2 separate regions of the Homo sapiens genome follow, and region 2 is linked to region 1. A link means that fine-mapping ties the variant in region 1 to the expression of a gene that starts in the linked region. Tissue or cell type: whole blood. Region 1 holds a variant in brackets; the other region holds the start of a gene. All regions are shown on one strand. Distances are from middle to middle.

Evidence for each region. PIP is the estimated chance that this variant, and not a neighbour inherited with it, causes the effect.
Region 2: it holds the start of SLC2A4RG, and the variant in region 1 is fine-mapped to the expression of SLC2A4RG in whole blood (TOPMed, PIP 0.94).

Annotation. Positions count from the first base shown.
Region 1 is chr20:63,760,800-63,768,799 of GRCh38, forward strand. All of the region lies in intron 3 of ZBTB46 (zinc finger and BTB domain containing 46), which reads right to left. Among named protein-coding and RNA genes, the nearest start is that of ZBTB46-AS2, 21 kb to the left of the region's middle. The variant T/C (reference allele first, on the strand shown) is at 3,166.
Region 2 is chr20:63,735,842-63,743,841 of GRCh38, forward strand. SLC2A4RG (SLC2A4 regulator) reads left to right here and starts at 3,935. Exons shown (of 8, transcript NM_020062.4): 1 at 3,935-4,197; 2 at 4,536-4,690; 3 at 5,529-5,638; 4 at 6,028-6,215; 5 at 6,289-6,389; 6 at 6,495-6,774; 7 at 6,858-6,949; 8 at 7,038-8,000. The coding sequence starts at 4,072. The coding sequence ends at 7,149. ZGPAT (zinc finger CCCH-type and G-patch domain containing) reads left to right here. Exons shown (of 7, transcript NM_181485.3): 7 at 1-301. The coding sequence ends at 78. It overlaps LIME1 (Lck interacting transmembrane adaptor 1), which reads left to right and starts at 823. Exons shown (of 6, transcript NM_017806.4): 1 at 823-871; 2 at 1,692-1,806; 3 at 1,980-2,061; 4 at 2,132-2,219; 5 at 2,342-2,658; 6 at 2,757-3,262. The coding sequence starts at 1,709. The coding sequence ends at 3,059. ZBTB46 (zinc finger and BTB domain containing 46) reads right to left here. Exons shown (of 5, transcript NM_001369741.1): 5 at 7,829-8,000. It also overlaps ZBTB46-AS2. RefSeq lists enhancers at 249-428, 1,008-1,924, 2,124-2,718 and silencers at 1,859-2,078, 2,149-2,298, 2,379-2,438, 3,443-3,942, 4,193-4,342 and 1 more.

The sequences.
Region 1 (8,000 bases):
GCATTGTTCACTTTCGGTTTTGGGGTTTGCCCAGGCTGGAATGCAGCAGTGCAATCATAGCTCACTGTAACCTTAAACTCCTTGGCCTCAAGCGAGCCTTCTGACTTAACCTCCCGAAGTGCTGGGATTACAGGTGTGCACCACCATGCCAGCTACACTGTTGATTTTTGTATGCCTGCTTTCTACTTCATTGATAGCTCTTTTTTTTTTTTTTTTTCAGATGGAGTCTCGTTCTGACATCCAAGCTGGTGTGTGGTGCCATGATCTCGGCTCGCTGCAACCTCCGCCTCCCAGGTTCAAGCAATTCTCCTGCCTCAGCCTCCCGAGTAGCTGGGATTACAGGCACCCACCACCATACCCGGCTAATTTTTGTATTTTTAGTAGAGACAGGGTTTCACCATGTTGACCAGACTGGTCTCGAACTCCTGACCTCAAGTGATTGACGCACTTCAGCCTCCCAAAGTGCTGGGATTACAGGCATGAGCCACCACACTCACCCTGATATCTATTCTTTATTTCCCTTCTGTTACTTTCTTTGGGCTTAATTTGCTATGCTTTTTCTTCTTGACAAAGAAATTTAGAACCTTTCTTCTGTCCTAATATATAACTAGAGCTGTAAGTTTCCCTTAAATATTGCTTTAGATGTGGGCCTAAAAGTTTTGATACAGCATTTTTTCATTATCATTCAGTTAAAAATATTTTGGCCAGGCACGGTGGCTCACACCTGTAATCCCAGCAGTTTGGGAGTCCGAGGCAGGTGGATCACAAGGTCAGGAGTTCGAGACCAGCCTGGCCAATATAGTGGAACTCTGTCTCTACTAAAAATACAAAAATTATCCAGGCGTGGTGGCCGGTGCCTGTAATCCCAGCTACTCGGGAGGCTGCAGCAGGAGAATCACTTGAACCCCGGAGGCAGAGGTTGCAGTGAGCAGACATCGCACCACTGCACTCCAGCCTGGGTGACAGAGCGAGACTCTGCCTCAAAAAAAAAAAAAAAAGTTTATCATTTCCATAGGGATTTATTCTTTGACTTGAGGGTTGTGTAAACGTATACTATTTGATTTGCAAGCATTTGGGGATATTCTAGTGTCTTCTTGTTACTGATTTCTAATTCCAGTTTGCTAAGGTCAGAGAATATACTCTCTGATTTCAATCCTTTGATATTTGTTGAACCTGAATTATGGCCCTGGTTGGTCTATTTTGGTAAATGTTTCCTGTCCATTTGGAATATCCTGCACTTTTGGTGTAACGTTCAAACTGGGCTAATTGTGCTGTTACAGCCAGTATCTCTATGAACACAGATGCAAGACTCAAACCAAACATTAGCTAACTGAATCCAATAATACAGAAAAAGAATAGCAGCTTGTGACCAGATGTGTTTATTTCCAGGAATTCAAGGTGAATTTAACATTTGAAAACTGTGTTCAAATATTCTCTATCCTTACTGAGATTTTGTTTGCTGTTCTATCAATTACTGAGATAAGTGTTTTAAAACCCCCAATTGTAATTGTGAAGTTATCTCTTTTTTTAGTTCTGCCAGCTTTTACCTCATGTATTTTAAAACTGAGCTGTTGCCGGGCACAGTAGCTCACACCTGTAATCCCAGCACTTTGGGAGGCCGAGGTGGGTGGATCACGAGGTCAGGAGATCGAGACCATCTTGGCCAACATGGTGAAATCCTGTCTCTACTAAAAATACACAAAAAATGAGCCAGGGTGGTGGCACGCGCCTGTACTGCCAGCTACTTGGGAGGCTGAGGCAGGATAATTGCTTGAACCTGGGAGACAGAGGTTGCAGTGAGCCGAGATCGCGCCACTGCACTCCAGCCTGGGCAACAGTGAGACTTCTCTCAAAAAACAAACAAACAAACAAACAAACAAAAAAAAAACCAACTGAGCTGTTAGGAGCAATATGCATTAGGATTGTTATATTTACTACTGAATTGACTAATTATCATTATGCCAGTCCCTCTTGAGTAATACTTCTCAAAGTTTACTTTGATATTAAGATTGCTATACTGACTTTCTTTTTGGTTAGTGTTTGCTTGATTCATCTTTTTCTTTTCTTTTTTTCTTTTGTAGAGATAGGGTGTTGCTCCGTTACCCACGCTGGAGTACAGTGGCACAATCATAGCACATGGTAACCTCAAACTTTTGGGCTCAAGTCATCTCCTGCCTCAGCCTCCCAAGTAGCTTGAATCACTGGTGAGCACCACCAAACCCAGCTAATTATTTAATTCTTTTAGAGATGGGGTCTTGCTAAGTTGCCCAGGCAGGTCTCAAACTCTTGGCCCCAAGTGATCCTCCCACCTTAGCCTCCCAAATTGCTGGGATTACAGGTGTGAGCCACTGTACCCAGCCAATAAATAGTTTTTAAAAACAGGCTATGTGTTTTGTTCATTTTTAATAATGTAATTATTGATGTGGCTGGTGTAAGGCTATCATCTTGTTTTTTATTTGTCCTTTATGCTTTTTGTTCTTATTCCTCCTTTCTTGCCTTCTTTCAAATTAATCACGTATTGTATCGGGCCATTCTTGCACTGCTATAAAGAAATACCTGCAACTGGATAATTTATGAGAAAAGAGGTTTGATTGGCTCACGGTTCTGCAGGCTCTACAGGAAGCATGGTGGCATCAGCTTCTGGGGAGACCTTAGGGAGCTTCCAATCATGGCAGAAGTCGAAGAGGGAGCGAGCGTTTCACAGGACAGGAGCAGGAGCAAGACGGAGGGTCATGGGGGAGGTGCCACACGCTTTTAATCGACCGGATCTTGTGAGACCTCACTATCATGAGGACAGCACTAAGGGGAGGGAGCTAAATCATCCATGGAAGGTCCCACCAGGCACCACGTCCAGTATTGCGGATCACAGTTCAACATGAGATTTGGGTGGGGACAGAGATCCAAACTGTATCAAGAATTATTCCATTTCTTCTCCTCATTGAGCCTTTGAATCACACCACTTTTCCTATTTTCAGTCATCATTCCTGTGACTATAAAGAGTCAGAACCACACGACAGTTAACTCTCATCCACCCCACATGCTAATAGTGTCATATGTTTTGCTTCTATTTAGGTTTAAAAATCCCCCAAATTATAATTGTTGCTTTAAACAATCAAGATTATTTTCTATTACTCACACAGTTGCCTTATCTGGTGCTTTCTTTTT[T/C]CTTTTTCTTTTTTTTTTAAATAAGAGACGGCCTTGCTCTGTCATCCAGGCTGGAGTGCAGCAGTGCAGCCACAACTCACACCAGCCTCGACCTCCTGGGCTCAAGCGATCCTCCCACCTCAGCCTCCCAAGTGGCTGGAACTACAGGCATGAGCCATTACACCCAGCTAATTAAAAAAAAAAATTTATAGGCCAAGCACGGTGGCTCATGCCTGTGATCCCAGCACTTTGTGAGGCCAAGATGGGTGGATCACTTGAGGCCAGGGGTTCCAGACCAGCCTGGCCAACATGGTGAAACCGTCTCTACTAAAAATACAAAAAATCAGCTGGGCATGGTGGCTCACGCCTGTAATCCCAGCTACTGGGGAGGCTGAGGCAGGAGAATCACTTGAACTCGGGAGGCAGAGGTTGCAGTGAGCAGAGATCGCACCATTGCACTCCAGCCTAGGTGACTGAGCGAGGCCCTGTCTCAAAAAAAAAAAAAATTGTGATGAATATTTTTGTTGGGTATAGAGTTCCAGGTTGGCATCTTTTGCTTTCCAGTACTTCAAAGACGTCATTCATTGTCTTCTAGCTTCTGTAGTTTCTGGGAAAGTCAGCCATCACTGTTGTTCTTCTGAATGTTAAGCATTTTTTCTCTGTTTTTTTTTTTTTTGAGACGGAGTTTCGCTCTTGTTGCCCATGCTGGAGTGCAATGGCTCGATCTCAGCTCACCGCATCCTCCACCTCCCAGGTTCAAACAGTTCTCCTGCCTCAGCCTCCCGAGTAGCTGGGATTACAGGTGTGTGCCACCACACCCGGCTAATTTTGTATTTTTAGTAGAGATGGGGTTTCTCCATGTTGAGGCTGGTCTCGAACTCCTGACCTCAGGTGATCTGCCCACCTCGGCCTCCCATAGTGCTGGGATTACAGGTGTGAGCCACTGCACCTGGCCCTCTGGCTGCTTTTAAGATTTTTTTTTGTTTTTCTTTTGAGACGGAGTCTTGCTCTCTCACCCAGGCTGGAGTGCAATGGCGCGGTCTCGGCTCACTGCAACCTCCACCTCCCAGGTTCAAGTGATTCTTGTGTGTGTGTGCGTGCGTGTGTGTGTATGTTTGTATGTGCATGTGTGCGTGTGCATGTGTGCATGTGTATGTGTGGTTGTGTGTGTGTGTGCGTGTGTGTGTGTGTGGGGCTTAGAGGCTTGGGGTGGGGGGCAGTTGTATGCAGAAGCTGGGGTCCTCCTCTTTGTTTCTTGCTTCTTGGGATTTTGCCCCTCAAGTCCCGGCTCCTCTGGCTGCCCCGAAGGACAATCTCTATCTGTACACTGCCGTCCGCTCAGGGTCCACTTCCTGCTCCAGGGTTTGGGAAATATGCCAGCAACACCACTGGGGTGAAGGGCAGCTCATCTGTGTTCTCTCTTCTCTCAAGGATCACAGCGTTGTCCCACCTGCACTGGCCCCCTTCCCGGGTAGGTTATGTGTGGGCGTTTCTTTTCTTTTTTGATACAGGGTCTCACTCTGTGGCCCAGCTGGAGTGCAGTGGTGTAATCATGGCTCACTGCAGCCTCGACCTGCTGTGCCCAAGCGATCCTCCCTCCTCGGCCTGCCGAGTACCTGGGACCACACGTGCACAGCACCACGCTCAGCTAATTTTAAACTTTTTCTGTAGAGACAAGGTCTCCCTATGTTGCCCAGGCTGGTCTTGAACTCTCAGGCTTAAGCAATCCTCCCGCCACAACCTCCCAAAGTACTGGGATTACAGGCATGAGCCATTGCACCCACTTCATATGCTGAATGAATGTCTGTGTAGTTTCAGGGGAAAGAATGTTAGAAGTAGGGATAAAGTCATACTGCTATCTATTCTAAAAATGTTCTTAGAGCCCTTATCATTTTACTATCTGCCACGAGCATATTTTTTTAGGTTCTATGGCACATGTCTACAATTTTTAAATTGTTTTCAAAAAGTTAACCAAACTCTTTCAGCAAAATGGTACGGAGAGAATCTCTACAACCAGGCCTCCTTATCAACCCCCAAGACAACTCTCTCCCCGCTGGGCCCACCTGCTGCCCACCCTGGAGAGCAAAAGGCAAAGCTGTCATGCGGCCTCTGATGTACCTGCTTCAACAGCACTAGGGTGTGCCCTGCCCATGAACGCAGAGCCCAGGCGTGGACTAATCTCACAGTCAGATGCCACAAGTTTCTTCTGTCATGGTGCCCAGGTTGAGACATATCATCTCAGGCCCAACAGCTGAGAGATCCTTTTTTTTTTTTTTTTTTTTTTTTTTTGAGAGGGAGTTTCGCTCTCGTTGCCCAGGCTGGAGTGCAATGGCATGATCTCTGCTCACTGCAACTTCCGCCTCCCGGGTTCAAGTGATTCTCCTGCCTCAGCCTCTCAAATAGCTGGGATTACAGGCGCCCGCCACCACGCCCAGCTAATTTTTCTATTTTTAGTAGAGATACGATTTCGCCATGTTGGCCAGGCTGGTCTAAAACTCCCGACCTCAGGTGATCCGCCCACCTTGGCCTCCCAAAGTGCTGGGATCACAGGCATGAGCCACTGCACCTGGCCAAGAGATCCCATTTTGACCAAAAAAAAAAAAAAAGCTTCATTTTCTCTACAACTGATATTAAAACTCCAACAGGCATTTGCATAAAGAGGCGTCTGGCAGCTCAGAAGGCACGGCCTGTGTGGACTGCTCTCCCGACCCTCACAGATGCCAGCAGAGCGCGGTCACCTTTGGTAAAATGCCCCAAACCTCACTAGAAATCCCACTTTTCTCCATCTTCAGAAACTCATCTCAGGAACATAAAGGAACATAAAGATTTGAGGAACCAGGGGAGGCTCCAGCAGATGGTTCCAGCTGCAGTGGAGATGGGGACCGTCCGGAAAGGGGATGGGCTGTTGGGCAGATGGTGGGACGCGTCTCTGGCCTGGGAGCGGGCTCCCCCGACACGCCACCTTCCCTGCCAGATGGTGCTTCTGGGTATTCCAGAATCTGGAATGGGGGATGCCTATCCCCCTCCTGAGCCCACCTGCTGCTCTGGGTCCCTGGAGCCCACCAAGTCCACAACCACCTGCTCTGAATAGAAAGCTGACATTGAACCTAACACGTCCGACGAGGACGGGCAAGGGCACCGCGGGGCGCTCTTTCTGAAAAGCAGCACATTCCCGTAATTCCACGCCGACACGTGGAGCGCCGCGCACATGCCAGGCACACACCGCCAAGGACGCCGTGGCAGGCTTTGTCTTTCGATCTCCCTAGAAAGTTGCTGGGTCGGAGCCACGTGGCTCCACTTCCCACGGATGGGGACATGTTTTCCCGCCCCTGAAAGCCCCCCGTCCCCACACATTGGCAATCCCGTAGGATCTCGGTCATCTGAACCCCGTCGGGCAGAAGCTGGAGGTCCACCCGCCCCAGCTGCCCACCGGCTGGGCATGGAGATGCCTTCACCTGGCAGCAGCCGGCAGAGGACTCGAGAAATGACCACAGAAAGGCACACACCGGCTCCCAGTCACAGCTCTCCGCAGATATCCCCCTCCGACGCGGCTGTTCGGTCACCCAGTTCCCCTCCTGCTCCCACACACTTGAGAGCTCTCTCGCCTGGGCAGCTGCACCCAGCTGGAGCCCGGGACCCGGACGCCAAAGCTCTGGCCGCAGCACTGAGGTCAAAGCAAACGCCGGCTCCAGCGCACAGACCAGAGGCACCCGCAGTTCTGTCCCAAACCACTTCCAGCAGGGGAGGTGCCTTCGCTGCTGTCACTTGCTTCACAGAGCTCCTTAGCTGGCCTCAGGGTAAAGCTGTCAGCGCCCAAGGAGCTCCAGGCGAGGCCAAGCCGTCCTGGCACTGGCTGCCCCCAGGGCTGGGCAAGTCCATCCAGGGCTGGGCAAGTCCATCCAGGCCTGGGCTGGAAGAAGACTCCTCAGGCATCCTGGACAGGCCACAGGCCCTGCAGAAACCCACCCTCATGCCAGCGGGAGCCAACTCTGGAAGAGGACTGCTCCGCCCAGCTCTCCACGCCATGAGAGGTGTCGATCTGGAACCAGAGACAGACAAGTTACAGACCGTCAGGATGGGATAAAAGCAGCAAGACTTCTAGTGTGGACACTCTGCTGCCCTCACTCACCTGGGATGTTGTCCAATCACTACTAAGACAGCCTGTCAACAGCCATCTGGAAAGGAAGACTGTAATTAATTCTCAATAAAGAGACACTCAAAAATATATGCATTAACAAAACATTAACACCTGCCACCAAAACTATCCTGTGAGAAATGAGAAACGACTCGTGTGGGAATAGCAATTAATTTCAAAATCCAAAATGTGTGGTTAAGGCTGGGCACCGAGGCTCATCCTAGCACTTTGGGAGACCAAGGAGGCTCATGCCTGTGATCCCAGCACTTTGGGAGGCCGAGGCAGGCGGATCACCTGAGGTCAGGAGTTCAAGACCAGCCTGGCCAACATGGTGAAACCTCATCTCTACTAAAAACACAAAAATTAGCCAGGCGTGGTGGTGTGCCCAACGGGATACCCTAACCTGTAATCCCAGCTACTTGGGAGGCTGAGGCAGGAGAATCTCTTGAACCCCGAAGGTGGAGGTTGCAGTGAGCTAAGATCGCACCACTGCACTCCAGCCTGGGTGACAAAGCCAGACTCTGTCTCAAAAGAAAAAAAAAAAAAGTGGTTGAGCTCTTGTTAAAGAATTTTTTTTTCTCCAGGGAGGTACACACCCCATGGCCCTTTCTTTATAGAAAAGACTCCGCGACTTCAGGCACAGGAAGGAGAATGCCTTCCACCAGGGCTCTGCGCGGCTCGGGCTGGGGCAGTGGAACGGCTTCCACCAGGGCTCTGTGAG
Region 2 (8,000 bases), 25 kb before region 1:
CAGCTCCGGGCTCAGGAAGCCGGCCTGCAGCAGGAGCAGAGGAAGGCAGACACCCACAAGAAGATGACTGAGTTCTAGAGACCCCACAAGCACTATGGACGAAGCGTGGGACCCCAGCACGGGCTGCCCTCAGGAAGACCAGTGTTGCCCGAGGAGGGGCCGGCCTGCTGGCCTGGGGCGTGCAGACACTGCTGAGTGGAGACAGAGCTGCGGGGTCCCATCTGGACACTTACTTGCCCACCTGCCAGTGTCTTGGGCATTTCCTTGGCAAGGACATTAAAGTGATTTCATCACAGTGTCATTCAGTGGAGATCAGCTGGCTGCAGGGTCTCTGGGGAGAGAAGGGTCTGTGCAGGGCTGTGGTGAGAGACGGGCTGGGCTGGAGGGGCCTAGGAGGCCGGCATTCTCCCTTCTTACCCTTCTCTGACCAAGGCAGATCGGAGGCCAGGGTGCCCGCCAGGCTGCCTGACACCCACAGATGGGTGGAGCTCAGTGCTGCTCCAGCGGGCGAGACGGGCGGGAGAGGACTGTGGCCCACCACGTGGGGCACTCTTGGTGAGGCAGGCGGACCTGGCCCTGTGGGTTTGGGGGTTCTGTGCCAGCTCTGCTCACGTCTTCGTGTGTGGAGGGGTTGTGAGTTAGGCTGTCAGAACAGTGCGGGCTAGAGGCGCACACGTTTCATCTAGGCTTCGGGCGGGGCGCAGCAGGTGGGTGAGGCTGCGGTGGTGGCTGCTGCCCAGGGTGGGAGGCTCAGGGGAGGCGCTTGGCGACAGGAGCAGGAAGTGATGAGGTGGGGAGCTCAGCCGAGGGCTGCACAAAGACCTTCCTGGCCTGCCCCAGACAGAGCTGAGGACCCCTGGCCGTGGGCTTGGTAAGTGCCCTCCTGGGGGGCAGCTGGGGTCTGGGAGGCCTTGGGATGTGGCTGCAGCTGGGTCAGTCAGCCAGGCTGAAGCCCACTCCCTGGGTCTGAGCAGACTGGCCCCAAACTCCAGAGACCACCCCTCACCCCCCAGCTTCTGTCTCTGCTGCTGGACTGTGCTGTTTGTAAGGCATCCCCCACCCCGAGAAGTTCTGCTAAGATCCCCAAGAAGGGGACAGATCCTCTCTGGCAGAGACACTGGCAGACAAGAAGAGCCAGAGAGAAGTGGGGTGGGGGCATCAGCACCCCCAGCAGCTGCTGCTGCCTGCTGACCCAGCCTCCAGCTCCTCCGGGTGCAGGGTCCCTCCTGCTGACCAGCCTCCAGCTCTTCCCAGTTCTGGGCTCCGCAGCGAGCGGCTTGGGGGCACTACCTGACACAGGAGACCATGTCTGGGCAGAGGGTGGCTGCAGGTGGAGTCTGTGGCCTGTGGCGCACACCCAGGGGCTCCCCCGATGCTGGTTACTATCTGGGCTATGGTGGCCACAGCTGTCTTGCCCCTCCTCACGGCCGTGCTGGGTGTTACCGTGGTCACCCGCAGGGACACGGAGGGGCCAGGCAGAGCAGCCCTAGTTCACCTCACCGGGAGCCCCCGCCAGAAGGTGGGCACCTCTGGGAGGGAGGGACTGCCAGGCCTTGGGGCTTCCTGTGCTGAGTCAGAGCTGGAACGGGAGACGCAGGAGCCCCGCAGCCGCGGGAGGTGCAGATTTGGGGCTGCCAGGTGGCGCCAGGTCCCCTTGGCCAGCCCCCAGCGCCCCTTTCTTCTGTCCCCAGGGCCTCGGCTTCACAGGATGGGGCTGCCAGTGTCCTGGGCCCCTCCTGCCCTCTGGGTTCTAGGGTGCTGCGCCCTGCTCCTCTCGCTGTGGGCGCTGTGCACAGCCTGCCGCAGGTAGGTCCCTCAGCCGCGTTCTGTCTGGGGCCTCGCTGCGGCTGCCATTCACAGCCCAGCGCGGGAAGGGGCTGGAGGCAGGTCCGCGCACCCAGCTCGGCACGCGCGCCTGCACCGGGCCTTGGACCCGAGGCTGACGACCCCGCCCCCCGCCCCCCACCTCTACCCCCAAGGCCCGAGGACGCTGTAGCCCCCAGGAAGAGGGCGCGGAGGCAGCGGGCGAGGCTGCAGGGCAGTGCGACGGCGGCGGAAGCGGTGAGTGCCAGGCTGTCCCGGGGACCAGGGTGGGGTCCGCAGGGCACCGACCAGCCTTCCTCGCCCCCAGTCCCTACTGAGGCGGACCCACCTCTGCTCCCTCAGCAAGTCGGACACCAGACTGCACGAGCTGCACCGGGGCCCGCGCAGCAGCAGGGGTGAGCAGAGGGCGGGGCGGGGGCGGCCGGGCGGGGCTTACTGTGCAGCGCGTGCCAACCCCTGGGCCAGACCCGCTCCTGCCCCCTGCCCGGAGTGAACTCTGCCCTGACCCCACCCCCAGCCCTGCGGCCTGCCAGCATGGATCTCCTGCGCCCACACTGGCTGGAGGTGTCCAGGGACATCACCGGACCGCAGGCAGCCCCCTCTGCCTTCCCACACCAGGAGCTGCCCCGGGCTCTGCCGGCAGCTGCAGCCACCGCAGGGTGCGCTGGCCTCGAGGCCACCTATTCCAACGTGGGGCTGGCGGCCCTTCCCGGGGTCAGCCTGGCGGCCAGCCCTGTGGTGGCCGAGTATGCCCGCGTCCAGAAGCGCAAAGGGACCCATCGCAGTCCCCAAGAGCCACAGCAGGGGAAGACTGAGGTGACCCCGGCCGCTCAGGTAACGTGGGCCAGGGTAGGGCGCTGTGGGTGGGGCCGGCAGATCCTCAGCAGGTTGGATGGTGCTGACCCCTCCTCGGGTTGGCTTCCTGTCTCCAGGTGGACGTCCTGTACTCCAGGGTCTGCAAGCCTAAAAGGAGGGACCCAGGACCCACCACAGACCCGCTGGACCCCAAGGGCCAGGGAGCGATTCTGGCCCTGGCGGGTGACCTGGCCTACCAGACCCTCCCGCTCAGGGCCCTGGATGTGGACAGCGGCCCCCTGGAAAACGTGTATGAGAGCATCCGGGAGCTGGGGGACCCTGCTGGCAGGAGCAGCACGTGCGGGGCTGGGACGCCCCCTGCTTCCAGCTGCCCCAGCCTAGGGAGGGGCTGGAGACCCCTCCCTGCCTCCCTGCCCTGAACACTCAAGGACCTGTGCTCCTTCCTCCAGAGTGAGGCCCGTCCCCCGCCCCGCCCCGCCTCACAGCTGACAGCGCCAGTCCCAGGTCCCCGGGCTGCCAGCCCGTGAGGTCCGTGAGGTCCTGGCCGCTCTGACAGCCGCGGCCTCCCCGGGCTCCAGAGAAGGCCCGCGTCTAAATAAAGCGCCAGCGCAGGATGAAAGCGGCCAGCCTCGCAGCCTGCTCTTCTTGAAAGCTGGGCGGGTTGGGGCGGGGGGCTTCTCTGGAAGGCTTGGAGCTGTCCCCTCTGGCCTTGGGGGACTGGCTGCCCCCGGGGCGCCCGGGCCTAGCCGAGGCGGTGCTCCTGCCGGCCAGACTCTCGGTCAGTGCGGGCACGGGGTCCCAGCCACTCCTAGGGGGCAGCGCAGCCGGCAGGGTGGCCGCCCCCGGGTGGGACTTGGACCCTGGACTCCACGGGAGGGCTCCGCCACCCAGCCTGGTGTTACATAAGGGGTGGTGGAGGTGGGCAGTCGAGCGTTAAAGAGTAACCTGCTGCCGGGAAGCCCGCCAAGCAATCGCGGCCCCTTCCCCGGCTCTGGCAGCTCTGCGAGCGCGCCCGTGGGGAACGGGCCCTCCCCGGCGGGGCGCGCGGGCGCGCGAGGTGGGCGGAGGCCTCGGAGCTGTGCCGGGCCGGGCCTCCCTCCCTAGGCCAGCGCGGGAGCGACCCGGAGGGGGCGGGCCCGGGGCGGGGCCTCGAAGCGCTGGCCGGCGGGAGCGCGGCCGGCCGGGCCCGCCCGCCTGCGGTGTGGACGCCGCGCGGCCAATGCGCGCGCCGGGACGGGACGGGACGGGGCGGGGCGGGGCGGGACGAGACGGGGCGGGGCGGGGCGGGCCGGGCAGCCTCCGGGCGGCGCGGCGCGGGCGGCGGCCGGATCCAGGGCGGGGGTCGGCGGCCCGGCCAGCCCGGCCCGGCCCGGGGCCGCGTCCTGAGAGTCAGCCCTCGCCGCTGCAGCCTCGGCGCCCGGCCGGCCGGCCATGGAGCGCCCCCCGCCCCGCGCCGCCGGCCGGGACCCCAGTGCGCTGCGGGCCGAGGCGCCGTGGCTGCGCGCGGAGGGTCCGGGGCCGCGCGCCGCGCCCGTGACGGTGCCCACGCCGCCGCAGGTACCGGGCGCCGGTGGGCGGGGGCGCCGACCAAGTTTCTCTCGCTGCAAAGATGGCGTCAGTGCTGCCCAAACTTCGGGCCCCCGGGGGCGGGGCAGCGGGGAGGGCGGCCGCGTCGGTCCGCGCGTGTCCGTGGGTCCCGCCGGGGCTGCGCCGGGCGGCCGGGGAGCCCTTCCCGCCGCGCCGGGCTGGGGGCGGGGCCGGGGGCGGGGCCGCGCCGTCCACACCGGCCGCAGCCGGTTTTCGAGGCGGGCGCCGAGCGGATCCGCGGCGGAGGTTGAGGGACCCCCCTCCCCCGGCCACCGCCTCCGCTGAGTCTGCCCCCTCCCCATCCGCAGGGCTCTTCCGTGGGCGGCGGCTTCGCGGGCTTGGAGTTCGCGCGGCCGCAGGAGTCGGAGCCGCGGGCCTCGGACCTGGGGGCCCCCCGGACGTGGACGGGGGCGGCGGCGGGGCCCCGGACTCCGTCGGCGCACATCCCCGTCCCAGCGCAGAGGTGAGCGGGAGGCCCGGTGCCTCGGGACTCGGTGTGCGCAGGGGCGGTGGGTGGGGTGCGGAGACACCGGCCCCGACGGAGGCCAGGTCAGGGCCCCAGGTTTGTAATTACCAGCCACCCCCAAGCTCTTCAGCCCTGGAGGAGCTGAGCAGAAATGATCGATGACTGGGAGTCCCTACACCTCCCTCCACCGCAGTTCCTCGGGGCTAGAGCTCAGAACCCGGAGCGGGTGGCTGTGCGTCTCTGTGCAGAAGAGGCTGCGCGGTCGGCATGGGGCGACTGTCCAGGAATCCCTGGGGCTCCTGACCGCCACCTCCCAACCCCTGCCAGGCCGGACACCTCGGTCTGGCTGCCAGGGCAGGGGCGGGCCCTGGCCTGGCTCGCTGGGGCCTGGGGAGCTGCCCGTGCTTCCAGCCCAGTCTCCCCCTGGCTGCTGCCGGCTGCTGGCCACTCCCACCTCCCAGGCCTGGCGTGAGGCCCACAGCTGCTGTTGCACAACCCTGGTTAATGTGTGATGGGGGGAGGCCTGGGCCTGGCCCGCCCCTCTGCCAGGGCTTCAGACCCCTGCCCAGCCCCAGTATCTGAAGGAACCACAGTGGAGCCAAGCCCGCGATGTGGAGAACTCAGGCTTCAGGAGACCCTGGCCCTGCTCCTGGCGGCTCCGGGTGGCTTTCAGCTCTCTCTGCAACCTGAGCTGGGGGAGGAGCCAGGCCTCATGCCCAGGGCTGGGAGTGGGGAGCCTGGTGTGCACGCGTGCCCAGGCCTGCACGTGGACCGACCAGGGGAGGGGCCCAGAGCTCTGGCTGGGTCACCCGCACCCCGCCCCCATCTCCTCCAGAGCCACCCCAGGAAAAGCCCGGCTGGACGAGGTCATGGCTGCCGCTGCCCTTACAAGCCTGTCCACCAGCCCTCTCCTTCTGGGGGCCCCGGTTGCAGCCTTCAGCCCAGGTAAGACTCAGATGTCTGCATTTAGGGGTGTGGGTGGGGACAGGGCTCAGAACCTACAGCCACCCAGCCTCTGTGGGGCAAGCAGAGCCCTCAAACCTGGGACTCCTTTCTAAAATGGACTCCCGCACCCTCAGTGCCCCCTACTGAGGCCAAAGCGGCAGGACCCAGGCCTTCTGGCCTCCCTGACCTGCTCACCTCCACGCGGCTGGCCACACACGTCTGCCAACCCTTTCCTGTGCCGGGGGGGTTTCTCCCCAAGCCCTGGGGCCAGCTCCTCCAAGACGCTCTGCCCACCAGTCTCACCGGACTTGGTGAACAGGGGCAGCTCAGGATTAGGGACTCCCTGGACCCACCCGAAGTTCTAAGGCGGGGGGCCCGTGTCCCCACAGAGCCTGGCCTGGAGCCCTGGAAGGAGGCCCTGGTGCGGCCCCCAGGCAGCTACAGCAGCAGCAGCAACAGTGGAGACTGGGGATGGGACCTGGCCAGTGACCAGTCCTCTCCGTCCACCCCGTCACCCCCACTGCCCCCCGAGGCAGCCCACTTTCTGTTTGGGGAGCCCACCCTGAGAAAAAGGAAGGTGAGCTTGGGGGCGGCCCCCAGGGAGGGGCGGGTGTGGCGGCTGAGCCTGACCCTGGCCCCTGTTGCTGCAGAGCCCGGCCCAGGTCATGTTCCAGTGTCTGTGGAAGAGCTGCGGGAAGGTGCTGAGCACGGCGTCGGCGATGCAGAGACACATCCGCCTGGTGCACCTGGGGTGCGGCGGGGCCTGGGGTGCGGCGGGGCCTGCGGGTTGGCTGGGGTTGTGAGGCCCGGCCAGGCCACCCCTTCAGCTCCCACTGGCTGGCTGTGTCTCCCGCAGGAGGCAGGCAGAGCCTGAGCAGAGTGATGGTGAGGAGGACTTCTACTACACAGAGCTGGATGTTGGTGTGGACACGCTGACCGACGGGCTGTCCAGCCTGACTCCAGTGTCCCCCACGGCCTCCATGCCGCCTGCCTTCCCCCGCCTGGAGCTGCCAGAGCTGCTGGAGCCCCCAGCCCTGCCTAGTCCCCTGCGGCCGCCTGCCCCGCCCCTGCCCCCGCCCCCTGTCCTGAGCACCGTTGCTAACCCCCAGTCCTGTCACAGTGACCGTGTCTACCAGGTGGGTGAGGCCACGGGTGGCAGCTGGGGCGGGTCTCAGGGCTCTCTGGAGGGGAGTGAAGCCCTGGCTGTGTCTCCCTGTAGGGCTGCCTGACGCCCGCCCGCCTGGAGCCGCAGCCCACGGAGGTCGGAGCCTGCCCACCCGCCTTGTCCTCCAGGATCGGAGTCACCCTGAGGTGCGTGTGGGCTGAGGGCCTGCGGCTGGCACCAGGTGGGGAGGGTCCTGGTCTCACAGCACCCCATGTCCTGTGACCCCCCGCACAGGAAGCCCCGCGGCGACGCGAAGAAGTGCCGGAAGGTGTATGGCATGGAGCGCCGGGACCTCTGGTGCACAGCCTGCCGCTGGAAGAAAGCCTGCCAGCGGTTCCTGGACTAAGTCCGGCTCGTTCAAGAACATAAGCTACCACCTTCTCCCTCCCCACCCCCTCCAGGCCCGGGGCTGAAACAGCCCGAGGACAGCCCCAGGGGCTGGCTTTCACCAGCTGCAGGGTCTGCTTTTACTTGGGGTGGGGGGGCGGGGCTGACCCTGAACCCTCCCCCCCGCCAGGTCGGGGAGGGGTCCCACCACTCAAAGTGCCTCTAAAGAAACCAGCTTTTTGCACTAAAGCCAAACCACACCGCTGTCCCCTTAGCCCCAAGGGCCCTGGGGGCAGCCACCCTCCCGCCTGTCGGCCCGTAGATTTATCAAGGGTGTTATGGGCCCAGCTTTGGGGGGCCAGTCCCGATGCACTTTGAGGGGTGTTGGAGAGGGGACTCCCCCACTCGCACTTAACTCAACGGCTCTCGGGCCCTGGGGCTGTTTTTACCATGTTTGTTTTTGAAGCTCAGGTGTCTCACGTCTGGGCTGCACCAGGCGAAGAGAGAAATTAAAGATTTGAGGTTTTTCCAGAAGCTTTGTCTGCCTCTCGGGAGGAAGGCCGTGGGGCTGGGACCCTGTGGTGGGCAAGTGGGTGGAGTCTGGCAGCTGCCCACAGAGGGCCGAGGGTCACCCGTCGGCCGCCGCCACCCCAGGCGAGGCCGGAGGAAGGATCATCTGAGACGCAGGAGGCATCTGCTGGAGCAGCAATTTCCCAATTTATTGAAAGTGATCGCTTTGCAAGGATGTCTAAGCTAATCCCGTCACAGAAAGGAAACGCACAGGCGCCTAGGCAGAAACTTGGAGACTCACCGCAGAGGCCACGTGAACCCACGGCCACAGAGAGGCAGGACGGCAGAGCCATGATTTCC